2 separate regions of the Homo sapiens genome follow, and region 1 is linked to region 2. A link means that fine-mapping ties the variant in region 2 to the expression of a gene that starts in the linked region. Tissue or cell type: CD8 T cells. Region 2 holds a variant in brackets; the other region holds the start of a gene. All regions are shown on one strand. Distances are from middle to middle.

Region 1 (8,166 bases), 88 kb after region 2:
GTTAATAGTAATAACAGAAGCTGATATTTATTGAGCATTTACTATGTTGCAGGCACCATGTTAAATACTTTAAAACAATATTTTATTTAATCCTCACCATAACTCCATAATCCTCATTTTACAAATGAGACCAGGGATGACTAGTAGGTAAAGCAACTACAACAGGCTACACAGCCAGTACATGGCAAGTGGGTCTGGAACCCAGGACGGCCTGATTCCAAAGTTTATACCCTACACTCTTCTACCACCAGCCTATCCTCAAAGAGAGCACTAAATGAACGCATTGGGTCCATCATGCTGGCTATGGAATGGAGAATGCAATTAAAGGCTGCCCAACTGGGGCTCCGTGACAAGGCAGGGATAGGAAAGAGACAACAAATTGATTCAAAAATACATTCAATGGGACCTAGAAGGAAACATTCAACATGCACATCCTCCTAGTGCATACAACAACAAAAAAAAATGAGGCTTTTGAAAATGAGGTGTAGAAAATAAAACACCAGTATTCCATAATGCTTTCAAATATAAACAGTTAAAACACGTATCCTTTTCTTTACTTATAACATGCTCCCAGCTGTTAAATTCAATGGCAAAGACCAGGTCTGTCTTATTCATCTGAGATGGTATCCCAGGTCTGAGCATCCTGCCTGGCAAGAGATACTCAATAAATATGGTTGAAAAGGTAGAAGAAAAAATGCCCAGTTTTTGCAATGATATCAGAGGTGCCTTATTGATCCAGAGTTAAAAACTAACCTTACTGAAAAAATTAAAAAGTCATGTTCATAACTGAGTAGAAAACATGTAGTAGTTATGTTGACTACATAGACAACAGTCATCATTAGGGAATGCTACATTGAAAAGAAGGCAATGAGTTCAAAATGTGATTAGTATTTTGTATAAATCATAACTCATTAAAAATAAGATGTTGAGTGGCCTAAAGGTGGAAATGTGTTTTTATGAGGCGGAAAAAAAGCACGAGTAGACTGAAGATCAGATTTGGGGCCTAATGATGTCTAGTCTCTTACCCTGACAAAATAAGCAGGTTATTAAAGTGATGTGAAGAACCTGATCACTATGACACTTTTACAAATTCTTTGTCCTCAATAAGAATCTATCTACTTCCAGGAACCTGAAAAGTCATATTTTTCAGACCTGAAGAGTTATTGTGCACTTTACAGTTTTCCCCAAAAGAGTCATTTCTTAATTTTGATCATTTAGGAAGAGTGAATCTATTAAGTCAAAAACGAAGAAAAAAAAACTTTCTATTTCTTAGTGAAATTTGTTCTTTTATTTAAATCCTTTGCATACTACTAAACAGAAGTACAGAAGCTACTAAACAGAAGACAGATTTTTGGGCCTTTTTAGGTGACGTAAAAGGAGCTTGTTGTTTATTAAACAATCTCATTACCTGATATATTATCTTGCATTAAGATATTTTGAAAAAATGTTTTCAGTTTACCAATTACGTTAGAGAAATTCTGAAACTATTTACTTACATGAAAAATTAAAATGTAAGTAGAATTAGGTTTCTCGTCTTCAATATATCTGTCTTCAACCATTGGCCAACTTTGAAAATTTAATTTGAATCAAATGAATACAAATTCAAAATGATTCATTAATTCAACCATTTTGAAACTTCAGTTCTATAAAAATATGAAATCTGTGGGCCTTGTAAAACTGTCTAAATACCCAAATAAAAAGCCACCACGTTTTTAAGCTAATTGTTTAAAAGTGTGTATATTGATGAAATGAAAGTGACTCGTGAACTATTGGGTCTGGAATTTGCAAATCATAAACCTTATCCTTGTAAACAGAACCTAACTAACAACATCAGGGCCTGCTAATTTCCTTCTTTTATAATCTGGAACAAAAGTTGTAATGATTTTTAACATCCACAGAAAATTAAGGGTGCCATTTTAAATATTTATTAGCAAAATGTCACTTAGGTTTTAAAAGTCTGGAGGAAAATGAGAGACAATTGAACATTCTGGTACTGCAATGCAGGAAAAACGCCAAGAACGAAACACTAAGATTTTATTAAAACCATAGGACTCAAATGTGTGTCAAGACTTTTTGCTTGCAATAGTGCCTCTTCCTAATTTGATTAAAAGCTTCCATCTCCATGCCACCTTCAATGTATGCCATAATTTTTAAAAAGTTCCCAATCCACTTCAAACACTCTAAAATTTACAACTGACCGTGATGCGCATTTTTTCTAGACAAACCTAAAGGTAAATCTGCCCATGTCCCTGGATAAATAAAATGAGTGCCTCCGGGTGATGTGGACTGTCAACTCCTCTACATTTCATCCAAAGTCTACATGGGTCATCTCCAAGTCACCAGAAGAGCCAGGGGAAAGGAGGGGAGGGGCACGATACGTAAGATGTTAAACATGAAGATGATGTAAAATTACCCAGATTCAAGCTGGCCATTTTACAGATGAGGAAACTAAGGCCCAGAAAAAGCTCTATGACTTGCCCAAATACTCGGTTACCCAGACCACAGCTGCAGATACTGTTATTTGGATCATAGCTGCAAAAAGTCTAACTTTTGGCCGGGCGCGGTGGCTCACGCCTGTAATCCCAGCACTTTGGGAGGCCAAGGTGGGCGGATCACGAGGTCAAGAGATCGAGACCACCCTGGCCAATATGGTGAAACCCCGTCTCTACTAAAAATACAAAAATTAGCTGGGCGTGGTGGCACGCGCCTGTAATCCCAGCTACTCGGGAGGCTAAGGCAGGAGAATCGCTTGAACCCAGAGGCAAAGTTGCAGTGAGCCGAGATTGCGCCACTGCACTCCAGCCTGGTGACAGAGCGAGACTCCGTCTCCAAAAAAAAAAAATCTAACTTTTGAAGTCTCAGAGGTTTTACACTTTCCATAACAAATAGTTAAGAACCCCCATTCCTGCATGCATATATATATTAATATTATATATATTTATATATATAATTATATATATATTTATATATATATAATATATATATATATTTTTTTATTTTTATTTTTTCCTTAAAAACCTTCAGAGACAGCGATCAGGTGGGTAGCCTAGTTAGGATTTTAACCCTTCGGTTTCCAACAAACGATAATTGCATAGAACCATCAACTCCCTGAAGACAGGACTATCTTGTTCCAGGCAAAATCTACAGCCTCTAGCACCCAGTAGGCATTCAGTGAGGGATTCTCGGTTTCACCTGAGCATCTCCACTCCCTATCCATCCATGCCAAGGCGTCAGTGGAGCCAGCTAACTTTCTTTTGGAAATCGATTATTTTCTTGAAACTTGTTTCCAAAAACTCCGGGCCAAGAAGCCGGCCTGAGGGAAAGCGTGGCCGTCTCCAGGAGCTAAGGACTGAGGAGCTGGCCTTTTGAACGGGTGGCTCAGAAAGAGCTGGGTGGGCACGCGGCATCGCCATGGGCGGAGTGGCCCAGGTGCGCTGGCTGCTTTGGCAGCTCAGGCTGCCGCTCCGGGCCGCTGCTCCCCGGCCGCCTTCAGATAACCAACTTCTCAAACTTCCCTTTCCGGGGGTGGGGGCTCGCCTCGAACGCGGCCAACACAACGCCTTTCCTGCTCGCACAAAGGGGACCAAACGTGCCCCGCGCCCCTTGCAACTGAACTTTCCTTCTCTTTTTCAAGAAAAACTCACAATCCCTGCAGCTACGGGAGTCGGGCTGCGTGAGTGTCGCGGGGGAAACTTTCCTCGTTTCCGCCCGGGGGCCGGGTTGCCGGGCCCGACTGTCAAGCGCAGCGGAGAGGCGGGGACCCCAGGAAGACCCCCGGCGCCCCGCCGAGCCCGGGCTGGGGACCACTCACCCGACTTCTGAACGTGCGGTGGGATCGTGCTGGCGATACGCGTCCACAGGACGATGTGCAGCGGCCACAGGCCCCTGAGCAGCCCCCGACCCATGGCAGACCCCGCTGCTCGTCATAGACCGAGCCCCCAGCGCAGCGGACGGCGCCTTCCCGGACCCCTGGCTGCGCCTCCGCGCCGCGCCCTCTCCGGACCCCGCGCCGGGCCGGCAGCGCAGATGTGCGGGCCAGATGTGGCGCCCGCTCGCCAGCCAGGAGGGGGCCTGGAGGCCGGCGAGGCGCGGGGAGGCCCCCGGCGGCCGAGGGAAGCTGCACAGGAGTCCGGCTCCTGTCCCGAGCGGGTGCACGCGCGGGGGTGTCGTCGCTCCGTGCGCGCGAGTGACTCACTCAACTTCAACTCAGCGCTGCGGGGGAAACAGGAAACTCCTCGCCAACAGCTGGGCAGGACCTCTCTCCGCCCGAGAGCCTTCTCCCTCTCCTCGACGTCCAGCCCCTAGCTCTCTCGTAGCTGCCAATCATGTTTCCTAGACCAGCCCCTCCGAGAGCTTTGGCCGACTTTCAGCTGCCCCTCACCGCCCTCCCACACCACTCAGGAGTTCCTCGCTCCAAGTATTTACTCAAGAATGACTAAGTGCACACAGTTCACAAAGTAACAACAGAAAACGTCCACGTTTTCCCTAGTAGATCAGAACATCTGCCGCCTCCCCTCAGCTTTCTTCAGATTGCTCCTAGGTGCTTTAGAGATGCGTTTTCAAATTGCAAGTTGAGATCCAGGAGTGAATACTCCAATCTATTGAGTCGCGAGCACATTTCTTTCCCAAATAAAATAGTAACGGTAAATTCTACTTCATTAAATTTGTGCTTCAGTTGTGTCTATATGCATGTATGTATGTGCATACACTGTCAAGTTGTAAAATGTTTTTCTTTAGGTCGAAGTCTAGAGGTTTTTCTCAAGTTTTAATGTACATATTGATCACCTGGAAATCTTATTTAAAAATGCAGATTCTAATTCAGTAGGTCTAGGAGGCAGGCAGAGATTCTGCATTTCTAATGAGCACCTGGATAGAGCGTCCCATTTTGCACCGCCTCTTCCCGGGACTGAGTCAGTGAGTAATTGTAAATGATCACCTATCACGAAGTGATAGTGGTGGGAAATGTAATTTTCAGAATGTATAGAGTATAGCAGAAACTGTAAAATTAAAAGTGGGTTGGGAGTCACCTGAATGCTTGTGCTTTTATTCCCTTAATGCAGGTGAAGAAAGAGAATACTTACCCTCTCATGTGCAAACGGGGTAACATGGGAGCAGAACAGTATAAACTTTCAAATTTCCTTTCTTGCTAGGGCAACCAGATTTGCCCAAGACATTCCTGGTGTACATGTTTTGTAGTTTAAATATTAATAGAACCCCCTTTCTCTTTCAGATATGTCCTGATTGGATAATAAACTATGTGATCAACCTACTTCCCACTCTCAAAGATATGATTCTGTACAGCCCTCTGGTCAGTAGATCTTCTAGCAATTCATTTAATGAATTCCTTTACCTGAGAGGAAGATTGCAGAGGCAAGGGTTTGTGCCAGGGTCTCCAGGGAATAAAGGTAAATAGCCCTCCCCCAAACCCAACTCCCAAATCTTTCCTGTCATTCTAAGTGTTCATTTGCTTCATCCTGGAATTTTAACTCATGCTCCACCTAGCACCCAAGCTGCCTCTGGATGTTTTGCCACTTCCCAGTACTCATGTTGAAGATGCAGAAAGTGCAGTGAAATCAGGAGGGCTAGGCATCTTCTTTCCCACCAATTAATTGCCTTGCCAAAGCTGGAGTGACTTTGTCAATGGAGGAAGATTGAGTTCCAAATCTTCTCCCTATTCCCTCTTCTGCCACCAGCCCATGCCACTGCCATGGCTTGTGTAGGAGTCTCCCACGAGTCACCCTCAGCCACGGCCGTTCTGGGCTCTTTCACTCAGTTTCTCAAACGAGAGCTGAATTCAGCTTTTCAAAATACAAAACTAGTTATACCAACCCTCTGATTAAAATCATTTAATGGCTTCCCACTGCTCTTGAGATAAAGAGAAGATAAAAACCAGATCCTTGAACGTGTCTTCAAGCCTCCAACTCTCCCGTAAACTTTCATTTGGCTTCTCCTTGCTTACTGAAAGCCTTCTCCAAATTTCGTGAATATGCCTCTGTAATCCTCCTACCCTTTATGCTTAGAGCCTTCCCCAGTGTGGACTTCCTTCCTCTGACCTTTTTTTCTTCACCCAGCCAACTCCTGGTCTTCGTGGATTGAATCATAACTTCTTTGATGGGCAAGCTTTCCCTCACCTCCATGAGTAGATCTTGTATTACACGTTCTCTTGGCACCATATGCTTTTCTTTTAACAGCTGTAACTTTATAATTATTTGTGTCATTCTTTAATTTATATTTCTATCCTCCACTCAACTCCAAATTTCTTGAGGGCAGGTATTATGTATCTTTCCCTCCACTTACTATTGTGTCCCTAAGCATCAAACACATAATCGATGTTTAATAAATATTTGTTGGATGAATGAATGAATCAGGCAATAAAGATTTAGAAGAAAATTGTATTTGATTGTTCTAGTTGCTTCATAACTCTGGAGAAAACATTGTTACCGAATATTTGAGATATAAACAGACTACATTTTAGCCGAGAATGATGTCACCACTACTTCCTTTTCTTAAGAATGGAGAAGTATGTGGGTTTCTTTCTTCTTCTTTTTTTTTTCCTACATTTGCCCAAGTTCCTCCAGATAGCAAACATGTACTTTCTTTCTCCTGAAAACACAATGTGGCAAATAAATGTCCAATAGATTCCAAAAGCTTTGTTTTCCTTAATTATCACAAAGATGTTTTACATTGTTGGAGGCTAGATATTTAAATCTATGGTGGAATGTTTAACTGGTGGTCTTTGCCATGATACATCATTAATGTTGATTTTAATTTTGTTTGCCCTTAACATTTCTGATTTAATCTCCAGTCTCCTGTGAAATTGAGAAGAATCAGAATTCAGCATTGCCAAGTGCAAGCTAGCCTTTTGAAAATCATCATAATAAAAATAATAGATGTGTAAACTCATGCATATTGCAATTTGATAATTTTAAAAATTCATCAGGCTGAGTGCAGTGGTCCACACCTGTAATCCCAGCACTTTGGGAGGTCTAGATGGGAGGATTACTTGAGCCCAGGAGTTCGAGACCAGCCTAAGCAACATAGTGAGATTTCATCTTTACTAAAAAAAAAAAAAAAAAAAAAAAAGCCAGGCATGTTGGCATGTATCTATAGTGCCAACTACTCAGGAGGCTGAGGTGGGAGAATCACTTGAGCCCAGGAGACGAACGCTGCAGTGAGCCATGATTGTGCCACTGCACTTCAGCCTAGAAGACAGAATGAGACCCTGTCTCAAAAACAAAAAATAAATAAAAGAAAAAGAAAAAAAAATTGTCATGATGCCCTTCCTTTTGAAATTCTTGTTGAAAGGGATGTCTGATACCCTTAATCAAGACATCATTTTCACACATAGTTGTATATTTGGCTTAGTATAATATTTTGTGTATTCACATAAGCAGTTAATATATACATGTAAAAAACTGGGCCATTTGCAAATGGGAACAAAAAAATAATAGCCCGACTCAGGGTTTAAAAAACAAGGAAGGTAACGTTTAAGCCCTTAATGAGTTGAAAAACAATAAATATCAACTTGAACAGAAATTTTAAAAGCTGACAATCTATTTTACCAGCTTTTTAAACTCTGCACGCACACACAAACACACACAATTGAACTGAATCAAATTGTGGTTTATTTAAACGTTGGGTTTCTCAGTTGTGATGAGAGAAGAACTTCCTACTCCCCTGAGCTTTGTGACATGCAGCTGTTGAGGTTACTGTCAGCTAGAGCAGTTAACAGGGAGATTCCTCTCCTTATAAATTAACCAGCCTCATTCTCAGCTCTTATCTCTTGACCAATTTTCCTTTTATTGTGAAGCAAACCAATAAGCACTGAGACTGTAGTTAATTTGTGAGGGTCATCCACCCTTTGTGGGTCATCCATGATGCTACCTCCTCCAGGAAATATTTTGTGATGCTTCACCTACTGTGATCACTCCTTTCCCAGGGATAACCCAGGGAACATTTCGTTTATTTAGCCTTTTTTTAAAAAAAAATGTTTGCCCCATTCTAACATGGAGTACATTATTGTTATTTATTTGCTTTTTAGAATTCTACCCTAATGATTGTAAAGCCCTTAAAAGCACAAAATATTCCTTTTTCAATGTAGAACCACACTCCGTGCTCTACAGATAATCAGTATTCAGTGTGTGTTTCTTGTCTTCAATAGAGAGA
Region 2 (8,203 bases):
TGGGTGATACACCACATTGCATTCAACTAATGTTTGATGGAGGAAATAAATATGGATAGATAAAATGGTTTGGAAGAGTAGACAGTTTTTTACTGACAGAGACCTGGGTTCAAGTTGTGTAAACCTGGATAATTTCCTTAATGGTAAAATGGAAAAAAGTAACACCTACCTTGTAGGGCTTCTAGGATGATTAGCATATATTTAAAATATAGGTCCCATATAAAGTACATAATTTCAAATGCCTGTAATGTTACTAATAAATGAGGAACTAATGTTCCAGCAAAGATTATACCTTGCATCCTTGCATTAATATTTTAGTACGTTTTCCATGTGTTTTTACTTATTTCATTTTTCTCCAGCTTTATAACGTAGGCAGGGCAGGGATGATTCTCACATGGAACAAAAGAACAAGACACTGAATCCATAAAAGAAGAGGATGGTAATGGAGCTAGACAACCCCCTAGATTTCCTGTCTCACAGGGCCCTGTATTTCCCACCACAGCCATGCCATTCACCTGGTTGAGAAAGCCCTTCAAGGATAAAGGGTGGTCTACTCACAATTACAGTTTAAACATGACTCATCTTCCTTAACAGTCAATTTTACCCAAAAATTTGGGGAACAATATATCCTTAAAATACTGCAACAACACAGCTTCACTTTAAAGAATGCAAAAACTGAATTATAATAATGAATACTTATGTGCATCAGTCTCTGTTCTAACCATTTAAAAAACCAGTATTTCATTTAACTCTTACAACTTTCCCAAGTAGATCTCATCATTATCCTCCTTCTACACATTAAGAAACCAGGAAATAAAAACAGTTAAAAGACTTACACAAAGTTACAGTTAGTGGCAGAGCTGGGATTTGAACCCAGGAGATTTGGCTCTAGAGGTTCCAATTTTAACCACTTTGTTATCAATGTTTAGACAATTTATTATGAATATTTTAATGGACCTAGGGTACCAGGGCCACAGTTATTTTATTCTATTGTCTATCATTGTGGGCATAGGTCAGGGGAAGACACAGGAGAATTTCAGAAGCACTGTGCTACACAGGCAGTTTACAGAAATGATTTTTAAGGATCAATTGTGTGTGTGTGTGTGTGTGTGTGTGTGTGTGTGTGTGTAGAGAGAGAGAGAGAGCATGAGAGAGCAAGAGAGCAAGCATTTCACAGTGTGTGCAATTTTAGCTTAATTAGAATAGGAAGACTATTAACAAGTTATTTTTAAATGCACCAAAGATCAGGAGGCGTATTAGAATTAAATTACACCATGTGAGGCTGATTGGCAGCCCATGTAATGTGGGCAAGTTCACAATCTTGTCTTTTATCAGCACAGTTTGCAAAGTAGGCCTGAAAGGCATGGCCCCAAACCCATAGAGGGTGGAGCTATAGTTATTCAAGTAAAAAAAAAGAAACTAGTTGGAAATGTGATAAGCAATGATTAGCTAACCTATTTCAGGAGGAAAATGAACAAAATGAGCAGATGCCGACTGTAGTGGCTTTAGTGAAAAAGGATAGATACACTTGTTTAAATGAAAAGTTCTCTGTCACCTGAAGACAGAATTTCCCTTAGGACCAGACCATTAGTGTGTCATTTGCATAGAGAGCTTAAAACAAAAACAGCCACCACAAATAGAAACTCCTGGGCACAAATATAGACTGCATTCAAAGGATGCTGACTGGTGCAAGGGACTGAGTCCATGCTGAGGGCACTTGGAGACCAATTGCCAGTTGGGAATGTTCCTGACCTTGCAGTAGCAAGAACTAAAATAACCCCAGCAAAACAAAGCGTGGAAGAAGGGAGAGGGGTTAGAAGACCTTGGCTCCTGTTTTGGCTGAAGCTCTTGGGCTGCAGCCCGGAGCCCATGTGCATTTGAGGAATAACTTTTCCTCCCTGGGTTCCCTCATGGGTAACTCCCTCCTCTCCAGTGCTAACTGCATCTGCCTCCTCATTTTGGACTGTTGAATCAAAAACCCTTGAGCTCTCCAGAGGCTCCACGTTGTTACCCCCTAACTCCAGCTTTATCTTGTGTTCAAGGTGGGGGTTTGATCCCTGGAGTCCAACTGCTTCAGTTCAAATTCTCATGCTAATGATTGCGACCCTTAGCTAGACCTTGCTCTCTGCCTCAGTTTCCTCCTCTATAAGATGGAGGTAAGATACTTCGCAGGGTTGTTGAGAGGATTTAAGCAGATAAGGTAAAACAGAGAATAGTGTTTGGCACTTACCAAGTACTCAATAAATGTTAGGAATTAATATGAATTTGCCTCCTTGGGTAGAGCTCCCTAACTTCAATTATTCCTATTAACACCTCCTGTAGTTGTCATGCATGAGTGTCGTCTACTTAATGTATTTTAATAATCAATTCAAGTTTTTAAACTCAGCCATATTTCAAGCAATATTATTTGTGAAAGCCCAGGCTGTGTTAATGATTTTTTTCTAATGTATGTTAATGATCCACTAAAATAAAGGTGGATCTATTTTTATAAAGGTGGCACAATCTTAAATCATCTCAGATACCAGTACACATTTCACACATTAGGAAACACAGTCTACACACATTCACTCATCTTCCAGTTGTTCTCTCAGCAAGCATGTAGACAACACTTACCATGTGAATGGAGAGGAAGTCAGGCAATAGAAATGGAAAAGCACCTTTTCTGCCTCCACTGAGCAGAGACCCAGAGAGAGATGAGAACAATGATCCAGTAGCAGAGCTTTTCTTCATGGGGTAGCCTTTTGGTCCTGCTTGGGCAGGTCAGTTCCCTCAGGAAACAGCAGGAAATAAAGAACCAAGCATGTCAGGTGTTCCAAATTCCAGTTCCAAGACAACTTGGCCCTGCATCCAGATTCTACATGGTGAGACCCTGGGCTTCTTATCTGAGCTCTCTGACCATCTGTTTCCTCATCTGTTAAATGGGCATAGTATGTACCTCACCGAGCTAGTGGAGGATTCAATCCGATGGCATAGCGAGTACTCAGTGAATGAGCGCTCTCCCCCGATTATGTGTTCACACAGGACCCACGTTTCCTGTCCTGCAGACCTGGGGACTGTACCCATTTTCCTCTGTTGTAAATGCTCTCTAGGTTTGTACCTAAAAATCTGCTTCTTTGCCTAAGCAGTCCTTGGCATACTAAACCAACTTAACACTGGCCAGCATGTAGTGAAGGCTTTCCAAAAAGTTCAAGACCCATCTTCAAAAGCCTAATGTGTCTTCTTACCACAATTTTATCTTGTATAGGATGAGGCTTGTAAAATCTCATTTTACACATGATGAAACTGAGGCATGGAGAGGTTAAGTAATTTGCCCAGATCACAAAGCTGGCAAATAGAGGAGCAGGTAACCTCTACAGTTAGTAACCACTAAAATTGCTACTAATAAAGACAAGACTATAACTAAGGCCCACAGTAGGACCACATCATCTAGCTCAGTGATTCTCCACTGAGAGGAACTTTGTCTTTCAGGGGACATTTGGCAATGTCTGGAGAAATTTTTGGTTGTCACAGCTGTGGGGTGGGTGCTACTGGCATCTAGTGGGTGGAGGCGAGGGATACTGCTAAACATCCCACAGTGCACAGGACGGCTTCCCTCCCTCCCAACACACAATTATCCAATGCAAAAATAAGTCAGCAGTGCTAAGGTTGAAATACCCTGGTGCAGGCACTATGACATTAACTATTTAGAACCCAGTCGATAACTAAGAAGAAGCTACAGAATCTCTCAGATTCCAAAACAGGTAGCATGAAGTTCAGGCAGAAAATCTCGTGCACTTTGTCACAAGAAATGACCAGGAGACAATTTCCTAAGGCATATTCATCTCACCATTCATGTAAATCAATTAAAAGCACCAAATGGATGTGGTATCTGGGTAGAAAAGGGAAGCATGGAATATGACAAGAGTCAAGAAGAGAGCCAACAGCTTGCTAGTATGAGGAATAGAGAAAATAGAAGAAGCGGTAGAAACACTGGCTGTGAAAATCCCTGCAAGAAACAGCCATGTGGATAGAGGCAGCTCCTGAGACTGTGGGAAGAGGTCTTCTGGGCATTCAGAGGGACATCATGCCAGGACGCCAGCATGGCAGGCAGGCCATGAGCAGCATCTGCTTCATCTCATATTACTGAGCTTCTGTGACTTTTTTTTTTTTTTTTTTTTTTTTTTAAGGACTGTGAGACTGTCAGTTGAGAAAGACAGTATGAAAAAGTTGGAGATTATTTACTTGGTGACGTTTTCTGCATAAATTGCAAAATAACCAAATGAGGCAAATGGATTTAGCTACTAGGAATGGGAACAGGAGGCAGGATGCTCACCTGAGTATTTTGCTTTATTCAATCTAATAAACATTTTATTTATGTAAAAGACAAACAATGCATAGAATAAAAATAAGTGCTTGAGACTTTTGATATAAAAAGAGTATATAGCATTCACATTCCTATTTTAATACATGAGTACAGCTGAAGTGTTCCATAAAAGAATAAAACTTTCCCTTTATGTATAGTAGTGAAAAAAGTCAGTATTTTTAGGAACTACAGAATGTTATTCCTTGGTCTTTTTTCTTGAATAAGAAAAAAAAACATAAACAAAACAAGCCACAGTATCCTCTGACACTACATTCCAGTTTATGCTGATAACCCAGAAGTGAGAATACTCTTGAATCTTGAATATCTCATGAATGGACCAGTATTCTAGAAACTCACCACTAGAGGTCAATGGGCAACAGCTATTGGGATGGTATCAGCATGCCCTAC[G/A]GTGCAAGTGGAATTTCTAGGCGCCTCTATGCTACTGCAGCCACACTGTCTTTAACTCTCAGCCCACCCACACTGAGGAGGGTGCCTAGAGGTTCTATTTCCAAACCTTTGCATGTATCTTAAAAATCTCAATAAAATGAGACCTTCCACCATCCAAACAGAGCTGATATTCTCACTACCAGTCCCTCTCTAATATTCCTATTTGGCTGAAAATAAGTAGCTTCAAAAAGTTTTAAAAAAGAGATTACTTGCAGCATTAACACTTCTTTGTTGATTAACAAGTTTCCTATGGAGTTTTAAAGCTCATACTTTGTTCTTGTCCTTGTGGACACAAATTTTCTAACTGCAAATGGGACCTTTGTGTCCCACATTCAAATCCTCTCTAGTAATTTCTGCAAAGGTTGAGAAGGCTGGCATGATGGAGAGAACGGTAACCATGAGGAAAGCTTCTTGGAGTAAAGCACTCCTCTCTCCAATGCAGAGGGTAAAACTATTAACATATAAGCAAAAGAAACTTGGGCTAACTGAGACCCTTAAAGGAGTTCCCCTTTAGTCCAATAAAAGGCCAACTTCAAATCTTAACACCAGATAAGGTAGTCAAAATCATATTATATACCCAGAGAATGACTGCTTGAATGGACATTTCTTACAAGGGACCTTGGTTAGGTGCAGATTTAATTCCTAGACTGGGGTCCAGGTAGGCAGTGGAAAGAGCTAATGTTTACAGTGAGAAGTGAGGCAGCTTTGTAAGTGTCTCCACACCTTCACATTTTGTGAACGTGGACTGGAGATAACTGAAAACCATCTGCTATCCTTACCTGGGGATCCAGATTTTCCTGCAAAATCTCCAAATATTTATAAAGTGGCTTCACTTTTTGAAACGCTGTGCTGACCAAACAAAACATATGTTTAGAGTGCCTGAGGTCATAGTCCTGACAATGATAGTATTGTGTAGTTGAAATCCTCTTCATCAGGCCAAACTGTGCTTGAGCAATCAGGAGCCCAGAAAGATGGAACCCATTGGTGTTTGTATAGAAAACTAGAAAATCAAGTCAAGTGTAATGAAAAAGTAAACACGATAAAGCCTAGAGTGAGAATTTGCTCCTTTTTAGAAAAGGATGAAGGCTGGGAGCAGAGAATAGTAACATAAGTGCAGGGGAAAGATGAAAAAAAGAACAATTTTTCATTAGTAGATGGTGGGGCAATCGCATGGATGGGGACATCTGTTCTGATTTTTCTGCAACCCATGAAGGTAAAAAGTGGGGTTCAAAACATTCAAGGTATTAAAGATGGGGTAGAGTTTCTAAACTAGGTTGAGGGAGAGTTTCTAAACTAGCCCCCCAGATTTGGGGCTTGGAGCTTAAATGAAAAGTCCAGGAGAAATAAGGGCACACAGGAACCCCGGGAACACTGGTCCTCAAACAGTGCCACTGTACTTAGTTCCATGGCCAGAAGAGAAGTGCTAGGCAGGGAATGATTATTTTGCAAAAGCAAGTGCAATGTGGTCATAGCTGGCTGTGAGACATGGAGCCTCTTTCCTCATGCAAAGTTCACTGTTTTACAGTCAGAGAACCACTGCATGTGTGATTGTCAAATGCTAATGCTGTCATGGGTCCCTTCCTTCTCTGCTTGGTTCTGGAGTTCTCCAATAAAACCAATTTCCTGGGAATATTTGATGTTTTTCCTTGTCTCTTTTCAAGGTATGGCTATATATATAGAGCTATAGACATATATAGATATATATATATATATATAAAACATAGCTATTCATATTTATATACAGGCATTAATAAAGTGCAAATGTTATTGGCTATTGTAAAAATCAATCTCATTTCCTGAGGAAGTGCTAACACAGCTTATCCTATGACAATGTCAAAGGCATAGAATGCTCTATGTCACCCACTCCCTGCTGCTGTTGTTTCTGCTTATCCCCACAGCTTACAGGGAGGGGAGTGACCCCCTTGGTTTTCCAGGAAGCATCAGTTCAGGGGCAGCTTCCTGCTGCCTCTGTTCTTTGGTGAGAGGGGCAGCCTCTTTGGACATGGCCCAGCCTGCCCCAGAAGAGCTATTTGGTAGTGTTTAGGGAGCCGTCTTCAGGAATCTTCTCCTCCGAGCAGCTCCTCCCCGAGAGCCTGTCCAGATGCTCCAGCTCACTGAAGCGTTCTGCCACACACTGGGCTGTGAGACGGGCCTCTGGGTCGTGGTCCCAGCACTCAGTCAACGTCTCACACACCATCTGGATGCCCTGTAGCGGGAAAGAGATCCAAAGGGCACCATGAGTTGGTGGGCTCCGCGGAAGGCAAGGTGGCCTGCTGACCTTGTTGCTATAGTGAGTGCAAGCAGGGTCCAAAAGTGCCTGTGCATTTAACATGTGCTGACTGAGTGCCTGCTGCTGCAGGCCAGCCAGTTCCATGTGGAAAGGGTGGTGGGGGGTTTGTGCTGGTGGCAGCTGTGCTCAAAACCTACCATACTTTTTGGCTCTGGTGCTATCTGATCACAATAGGTCCTGACAGCACAATGATCCTCTGCTGGGCTTCTGGGGTACACTAACACTCCCAACACCTGAAAATTCCCCATGTAGTGGCCCTTAATATCATTTCAACACCTTTCTATTTAGAGAAGTTCTCGCTTCACAGCAAAATTGAGTGGAAAGTACAGAGAGTTTTCACAAAACCCCTTCCCCATAAAGGCACAGCCTTCTCCACCTTGACATCATGCATGCATCTATGAGGTACATTTGTTATAACTGATGAACTAACACTGACGTATCATTATCAATCAAATTCATAGTTTACATTAGGGTTCACTCTTGGTGTTGTATATTCCAGGGGTTTTGACAAATGTATAATGACATGTATCTACCATTATAGTATCATGCGGAATAGTTTCTCTGCCCCTCAAATTCCCTGCATTCCACTTATTCATCCCTCCCTCCATTCCCCTAAATTTCTGGCAGCCACTGATTTTGTACTGTCTCTGTAGTTTTTGCCTTTTCCAGAGTGTCATATAGTTGGGTCATATACACTGTTCTATTTTAACAGGGCTGATTACCCCCGTCAGAATTGTATGCAGGCATTAGCATGGTTTCATTTTCTATAGGCCACACATTTTGTAGAGTGATTCAGTAGCAGCTTCTACGAGCTGCCAAGGATGACCTCTGGGATGCTCCATTCCTCTCCAACAACATTGGGTTGAACCCTGTGAAACAGCTGCCTATGTGGGTCAGGCATGCTTAACTCTATGCCATTTCCTAGGGTTCACCCTAACCGAATCAAGCTCCCATCCAAGGAGACCATCCAGGAGATCCTGCCCAGGAAGGTGGCAAGAGTTTTCTCTCACTGGCTTAATTTTTATTTTGCATTGCAAATATTTTTGTTATCATTTCAAATCCTTTTTGGAAATAAAGCAGGCAGGAGTTAAGTAAATGGTCTGATAGGTGGAAATAGAGTGTGC

Which allele goes with the higher level. Alleles are on the strand shown, and positions count from the first base shown. SD is a standard deviation of normalised expression in the study named.
With allele A in place of G in region 2, the expression in CD8 T cells of the gene that starts at base 4,188 in region 1 is lower (moderate effect, 0.52 SD a copy in CEDAR).

What was found. PIP is the estimated chance that this variant, and not a neighbour inherited with it, causes the effect.
Region 1: it holds the start of TGFBR2, and the variant in region 2 is fine-mapped to the expression of TGFBR2 in CD8 T cells (CEDAR, PIP 0.95). The same link has a PIP of 0.9 or more in B cells, CD4 T cells, monocytes and neutrophils.

What each region holds. Positions count from the first base shown.
Region 1 is chr3:30,602,623-30,610,788 of GRCh38, reverse strand. TGFBR2 (transforming growth factor beta receptor 2) reads right to left here and starts at 4,188. Exons shown (of 7, transcript NM_003242.6): 1 at 3,812-4,188. The coding sequence starts at 3,905. LOC105377015 (translation initiation factor IF-2-like) reads left to right here and starts at 3,865. Exons shown (of 2, transcript XM_047449400.1): 1 at 3,865-4,643; 2 at 5,231-6,390. The coding sequence starts at 3,865. The coding sequence ends at 4,305. RefSeq lists a silencer at 4,015-4,114.
Region 2 is chr3:30,690,212-30,698,414 of GRCh38, reverse strand. It overlaps TGFBR2 (transforming growth factor beta receptor 2), which reads right to left. Exons shown (of 7, transcript NM_003242.6): 7 at 4,273-6,995. The coding sequence ends at 6,816. Among named protein-coding and RNA genes, the nearest start is that of TGFBR2, 88 kb to the right of the region's middle. The variant G/A (reference allele first, on the strand shown) is at 4,751.